Linked DNA regions of Homo sapiens. The protein of the gene in region 1 purifies or fractionates together with the protein of each later gene. This does not show direct contact. Each region holds a gene or a part of one and is shown in the gene's direction. Other genes may lie near its edges.

Region 1 (3,734 bases):
TCGCCACGACGTCCATCGTGCTCTTCCTTAACAAGAAGGACGTCTTCTTCGAGAAGATCAAGAAGGCGCACCTCAGCATCTGTTTCCCGGACTACGATGGTGAGAAGTCCGCAAGGCCGCCAGGCGGCGCCCCCGCCCCACGATCGCGGCGCGCACCCCCCGCACGGGGAAGGAAGGGCTGAGCAGAGTGAGAGCTCCCGCCCCCGCAGGACCCAACACCTACGAGGACGCCGGCAACTACATCAAGGTGCAGTTCCTCGAGCTCAACATGCGGCGCGACGTGAAGGAGATCTATTCCCACATGACGTGCGCCACCGACACGCAGAACGTCAAATTTGTCTTCGACGCTGTCACCGACATCATCATCAAGGAGAACCTCAAAGACTGTGGCCTCTTCTGAGGTAGGTCGCTGCCCTCTCCAGGCTCTTGCCTCAATACCCCAGCCCCGTCCAGCTCCCCACCCCACACCACGGCCCTGGAGCCTCACCCCCAAATCCTGGAGCCTACTGCCTCCAGGCCCCACCCCAGCTCCTCAGGCTCCACCCCACCGACAGAGGCCCCGCCCCACCCCACAAGTCCCACCCATTGAATTTCTTTTGGCCCCGCCCCAAGACCTCAGGTGTCACAGCTTCCAGGGCCGCCCCACCACACACAATGCCTAAACCCATTTATTTTGGGTCTCAGGGATGCTGACTGGGTTTCCTTTTCACAGGTGCCTGAATTCATGCGTGTCAGTCACCCTGAGACCTGGTAGCCCTAGCTGCCTTGCAGCCCCAAACCCCAGGACCCTATCAGCCCCCTGGGACTCCCTGGCCCCAACCTGCCACCTCACCAAAGCTCTGAGCCCTGCTAGCCTTGAGGCGCGGACCCTCCCCCATACCTCCCACAGTATCCCAGCGCCTCATGCCCCCAACCCCAAGCCCTGCCCTTCACCGCCCGGCTGCACTGGCCTCTAGGACTCACAGCAGCCAGCCCCAGCTAGGAACGGGCAGGACTTGGGGCAGCTGAAGCTCACGGTGACTCAGCAGTGCCCAACTGACCAATCTCCCGCAGCTCTCCTGCCCCTGGGGGCCCACGACTCACCTGGTGGGCCTGGGCTCAGCAAACAGCCCTCCCTCCCAGTATTTCATCAAGGACAGGGAATATCCCTCCCACACACAGGCCAGCTGCTCACCCTGCCACCTCCATGTGACAAGTTTGACACCTGTCTACCCAGAGCCAGTGACTGTCCCTCCCAGCAGCCTCCAAAGGGTCCAAAGTCCAAGCTAGCTCTGGCCTGTGTGGCCCCCACATAAATAAATTAGTGGGGAGGGGGCAGACCTGGGGGCCCTTGGGTGCCAGAGTGAGACACAGCAGGACCCTTCCCCAAATACTAGGCTCAGAGCAACCTCCAGCCTTCTCCAGCAGGATCTGCTCCCTGTGTCCTTGGACAGCAGATCCACACACCACTTCCCCACCCACACACAGTACCCTGGGCTGGTTGGACAACAGGATGGTGTGTTAAGGGGTTAAGGGAGGGTACTGTTGACACCAGCTATGGCCAATAGCTGGGCTGTCCTGAGGGGTGGCTGGGGACAGAGTCCAGCTCCCTTGGATCAGCCCAGAGGATTCAGGATAGGACAAAGGCCCTGGCTGTGCCCAAAAGGGTCTACCTCAGGTGGGGTTACAAGCAAACCTGGGTGACCCTCTTGTCCCTACCAGCAGCTTCTCTTGCCCCTTCCATTCAGGGTTCCCTGGCAGGGGAAGCTGAGAGCCATGGCTGAACTATCAGGGACAAAGGCCCATGTCCCCACATCCCTGCTCCCTCCTTCCTCATCCAGCACCAAATCTTTGCTTATGTCCACAGGCCAGGGCCTGTGCTGCAGTCGGGGACAAGGAGCTTCCGTCTGGCAAGGCCGGGGCACAATTTGCACTCCCCTCAGCTAGACGCACAGACTCAGCAATAAACCTTTGCATCAGGCTCCAGCTGTCCTTTCTTGGTGGAGGACTTAATTATCACAAGTCATGGGCATTTATTAAGTGCCCAGTGCTGGGTTGGGCATGAAGTGGGAAGATGGCCCCTCCCAGGAAGAAGTACCTGGCCTGACAAGGTGGGGCACTCTTGGGGGTATGGGACCAACTCATGGCTTTTCACGGGAGTTGAGGAGAGAGGAGCTGTGGAAAATATTCACTGGGACAGTCTTGGATCAAGAGGGAGTTTTGAGGTGGAGGCTCATTCTGGCAGGGACCGTAGTGTCTACCAGCCCCAGAAACATGGGCTTATGGCCACAGGAGTTCAGTGGAGCAAGAGCAGGGGAGGAGAGACGTGGACAGGTGCCCAAAGCCAGTCGGAGGGCCTGGGCTTTCTCAGAAGGTGATGGAGAGTCTTGGAAGCCCTCGAGGCAGGAACATAATTGCAGGGCTGGGATTAGGGTGAGGGAAGTGAGGCACACTCACCTTGGGTGCAACATTTAAGGCGATGCCAAAAAATTTAGTAACCAAGGTAAATAATATTAGGATAATATTTTTAAAAATCAAATGAATGCAAAACCCCACAATGAATGAAATATCAAAATCCAACAGAGGATCAAACAGAGGCATGCTAAGATATATTGGGGCTTGAAGCAAAGGGAAAACTATTTGTTGCTATATGTTTGTAGGGATTTTTTGCCAGTTTTAAAAATACATGTATCATAAAGTTTACTATCTCAGCCACTTGCCGGTGTATAGTTTGGTGGTGTTAAGTACATTCATAATGTTGTACAACCACCGCAACTGTTCATCTCCAGAACTCCTTTCCTCTTGTAAAACTGTAACTCTGTACCCATGAAAAAATAACCCCCCATTCCTGCCTTCCCCCGGCTCCTGGCATCCACCATTCTACTTTCCATCTCTATGAATGTGACTGCTCTAAGTGCCTCAGATGTGTGGGTCCATGAAGTCTTTGTCTTTTTGCAACTGGCTTATTTCACTTAGCATCATGTCTTCAAGGTTTATTCATGTGTAGCATATGGCAGAATCTCCTTCCTTTTTAAGGTTGAATAATATTCCATTGTATATATTCCACACTTTGTTTATTTATTCATCTATTGATGAATGGTTACATCTGCCTTTTGGCTATTGTGAATAATGCTGCTATGAACATGGGTGTACAAATCTCTCTCCCAGCCTCTGTTTTTTATTATTTTGGGTGTATACCCAGAAATGGAACTGGCAAATCATATGGTGAATCTTTTTTTTTTTTTTTTTTTTTTGAGACAGAGTCTCTCTCTGTCGCCAGCCTGGAGTGCAGCGGCACAATTTCGGCTCCCTGCAACCTCCGCCTCCCAGGTTCAAGCAATTATCCTGCCTCAGTCTCCTGAGTAGCTGGGACTACAGGCACACGCCACCATGCCCAACTAATTTTTGTGTTTTTAGTAGAGACGGGGTTTCACCATGTTGTCCAGGATGGTCTCGATCTATCTCTTGATCTCAGGTGATCTGCCCACCTCGGCCTCCCAGAGTGCTGGGATTACAGGCGTGAGCCACTGCAACCGGCCTCATATGGTGAATCTATTTTTATTTTATTTATTTATTTATTTATTTATTTTGAGACGAAGTTTTGCTCTTGTTGCCCAGGCTGGAGTGGCAATGGCATGATCTCGGCTCACTGCAACCTCCTCCTTCCATGTTCAAGTGATTCTGCCTCAGCCTCCCAAGCAGCTAGGATTACAGGCATGTGCCACCACACCTGGCTAATTTTGTATTTTTAGTAG
Region 2 (3,747 bases), on another chromosome or scaffold:
GATTGACTTTATTTATATTAAGTATAAAGATAAAATTCTTATAGCCCATTCAGATTTTTCTTTACACTTGCAAACTCCAGAGATAGATATTGAAAAATACAAAGGCATATGTCTCATCTATAATTTCTTTCAGCAATATGTCTGCAAGTTGAGCAAAAATAACTGAAAGTGCTCTTTTTGAAAATAATAATTTTCACTTTTCAAAAATGATCCTGTATTTATTTATTTATTTTTTGAGACAGGGTCTCAGTCTGTCACTGAGGCTGGTTCTAAATTCTATTAATCCAATGATTATAGTCCAGCATTTGTCAGGGCACATGATGAACACTAGGTATTTACTGTCCCTGTGTGTCTGTAATGAATTAAAAGAAAAAGTACAGAGAAAGATTATTTAAGATGTTATGGGAAAAGATTTACTAGACTTCACAGAATTATTACTTTAGTCAAGTAACTAAAATAATTCAATCTGACAGATTTGGAAAATTGAAAGTATAAAAATTTGTTTTAAAATTTTTATTGCAGTTTTTCCTGCCACCATTCAGATTGTTTGATCTTGTTATAAATGAGCATTAACTCTGATTTGCAATTCAGGTCACACCATACCTCATCAAAGAATGCAGTTGGGAAAGCAACTGGCCAGGAAGTTTAGGTTTCCCCAGAAGGACTGGAAGGATTTAGAAAACATTTCTTTGGACTTCTTCTGGTTGATGCTCTTCCTACAAGAATCTGTGTTTGGGTGATCCTTGTACAGGAAAATGTCTCTTAGTCCAATTTATTTTATGTAGAACTGTGTAGAGCTAGAGCTTCCCGGAAACTTTCTGAGACCCAAATCATCTGGACTGAAGTCTCTTAGATGCTATTGTTTGATTTTGTGTCCTTAGGTGATTGATATAAGGACAGCAAGAGAAAACCATGTAAGATGAGAAGAAAGCAAAGCTGGCTTTGTGTATGGGCTCAAGTACATTTTACATGCACGTACTTTTTTCCTGTTTTGGTGAGGAAACTCTGTCAAATGACTCTTGACGGGCGCCTCACTTAGTCCCTCCAAGTTTTAGTAGAGAAAATGATAATTTTTAACCAAGACTTACTTGATCTTGACCTAAGATGATGAGAATGAGCAATCCTTCTGAAATCTTATTATTTTAGGTGAAAATAAACATTCGATAATTACATTTTAAGACTTACCAGAGTTTATCCAGGTTTTGTTCAGATCCAGAACTTATACAATGTCGGAGTCTTCTTTTAAGAATACACGATGACAGATACAAAATTAGGTACACAGCTTAATTAACTTCATGATAAATTCTCTTCTGATTATGAGTTACTGCTTTCTTTGGCCAGAATTGTGAAAGAAAAATAAGGCGTGAGGCTAGAGGATGGGGAAAAAAAATCCTTGTCTATCTTGCTTCCCAAGCAGGCCTTCAAGCTAGCTAACTGAAACAGTCTTTTCTCCAGGTCCTAAGGTAAATGGTGGCGGATCTGAAAATGCGTCGGACTTAACCTTGCCCTTCTCCCCAGTTTATTCGCTCAACAAAGAGTTCTAAACAGTCACATCTGCTCTCTAGGCAGAACGGACGCTGCCTCCTAGTATTAGAATACCCAACTCTTTGATATCTCCCTTAGGGATCATCCCTATTCTGGAGAATGTGCAAAATATTGCTCTTCCTTTATATCCTAGCATAGATATATTCTGGCACTTAACATGCATTCTTTTTCTGTTGAATTGAGTTACAAGTCAGTTCTCTAGGACGGTTACCGTCCTGGTGGCTTTGGCGGAATCTTCCGGTGAAAATAGGCTAAGTTGCATGAAATGGGTGTGTCTGGATTTTACCACAAGACCCCTGGTCCTCAAAGCTTCGCAGGCCGAGATACCTCGCCCCTTTCTTCTCTGTCACACGCGTGCGAACACACCCTCCCAACCCACGTCGTAGTAGTCCCCTCCCCCGACCACCCCGCCCCGTTTCCCTTCAACCCCCCTCCTCACGAACCTCCCCTCCCTTCCTACCTCCCTTTCCTTCCCTCCCCGCGGGCCAGCGGCTTTGGCGCTGCCCTGCTGCGCGGCGGGGCGACGCGGCGACACCTATAGGATTGCTTCCGGGCACTCCTCAGCCAGGAGGTGCTGGCCTGGGGCCCGGAGCTCGGCAGGGCCGGGCGGCTCCGCGGCGTTGGCCCAGAGGACGCGCGCCCCCGCCCGGCCGCGTCTCCTTCCCTCCCTCCCTCCTCCCGGCGCCCCGAGCCGAGCTCAGCCCAGGGCGGCGGCTTCGCCTCGCCCGGCGAAGCTTCTCTCCGGTGGCCGCTCCTTCTTTTCCCTCCTCTTTGCGTCATGTCGGGCACTTAATTTTTTTTTTTTTTTAATTCCTTCTTCAGCCCTTTCCACCTTCCATCTCCCTTTTCGCTTCCCAGGTTGATTATTTTCTCTTTTCTCCGGGCTTGCCCATGAGCCTCCTCGGGAGCTACCGGAAAAAGACCAGCAACGATGGTTATGAATCTTTGCAGCTGGTGGACAGTAACGGGGACTTAAGTGCGGGAAGCGGCGGGGTTGGCGGCAAGCAGAGAGTGAACGCCGGGGCAGCGGCGCGGAGTCCCGCCCGACAGCCTCCGGACCGCGCCAGCACCATGGACAGCTCAGGTAGCGCTGCCCGAGGGGAGTGCAGCGCTGAGCCCCGCGCGGCCTCCGGAGCCTCCCAGTCGCCCGGCCCGAGGCCCCCCCGTGGTCCCCCAGCCCCGGTTTGCGAGAGAGCCGGGCTGGAGGCGAAGGCTTCTAATACCACCTGGGTGTCGAGTCTCTAATTTCTCTCATCCAGGGAGCTACGAAACGTTAGATCAGTCCTGAGGCCCAGAGACTGTAGCGAGCTCCTCCTAATCTCTCTAGACTGCTGAATACGGCAGCTGGGGGCGGGGAGGGGGAGGGAAGGAGGAGGGGAGGGGTGGAGAAGAGAGGGGAGCGGGTGGGGCGAAGAACGGCTTGGGAGGAGGGCTGGGAGAGGCAGCTGCTTTCACTGCCCAGCTGGATGAGGGGGAGAGGTGAAGGAGCATGTGCGTTGATTGTTTTTGCAGCATGCAGACGGTATTTATTCCAATTGTTATTCTTGCAATGCTGATGCTATTTGCAATTCTGTAAAGCTCTGCCACATCTTAACTCAGCCGTCTGCTAGGGTTAATGTTACCTTTCTCCTGCAGTTTTTAACCTGGGATCTAGAGCTCTTTTACACAGCTTTTACTGTTTGCACAATGAAATTTATTTCATGTGTTGGCTTTGATCTTGTTTGTCCTTTTGCTTGAGTGTACAGATTTCATAAACCTTTACATGTAGGGACAAGGAAATTCCTCTAAACTTTGTATCGGGGCTTGCAACTGTCTTTTATAAAAGGTTTGGCAAGTTAGAGTCCTCTCTTGGAACTGCTGTTGGCATTTGCGATTTCAATAGCAAAACAGTCATTTAATATATCCATGTTGGACTAGGAGTATTATTATAGCTATTTGCTTACTTCTGCAGGGAACCAGGTTCGGAGAATTGTTTACAGAGATATTTATAATTGAAGTCCTCAGTGGTTGGTTCTACACTGGTAACTTTAATACTGGACAACTGAGGATTCCAGAGGAAAGATTCATATGGGGTCGTTTGAACAGTAATGAAATCAAACTGAATTTAAATGCCCTGCTTTGCAAACAAATGCTTGTTTATTTTAATTGTGTAATGGCTGTCCTTGGGCTATTATTTTCTATTTTCCTTGTCCCAAAGTGGGA

What was found.
Region 2: the proteins of GNAT1 (region 1) and DNAJC6 purify together in Homo sapiens (affinity purification with mass spectrometry; 2 studies listed by BioGRID and IntAct, with this or other methods). This does not show direct contact.

Annotation. Positions count from the first base shown.
Region 1 is NC_000003.12:50,194,556-50,198,289, forward strand, and holds the end of GNAT1 (guanine nucleotide-binding protein G(t) subunit alpha-1), read left to right. Parts: coding exon 1-99; intron 100-209; coding exon 210-400; 3' UTR 401-401; intron 402-712; 3' UTR 713-3,141; downstream 3,142-3,734. UniProt on the Homo sapiens protein: Functions as a signal transducer for the rod photoreceptor RHO. Required for normal RHO-mediated light perception by the retina.
Region 2 is NC_000001.11:65,307,310-65,311,056, forward strand, and holds the start of DNAJC6 (auxilin), read left to right. Parts: upstream 1-2,233; 5' UTR 2,234-2,436; coding exon 2,437-2,629; intron 2,630-3,747. UniProt on the Homo sapiens protein: May act as a protein phosphatase and/or a lipid phosphatase.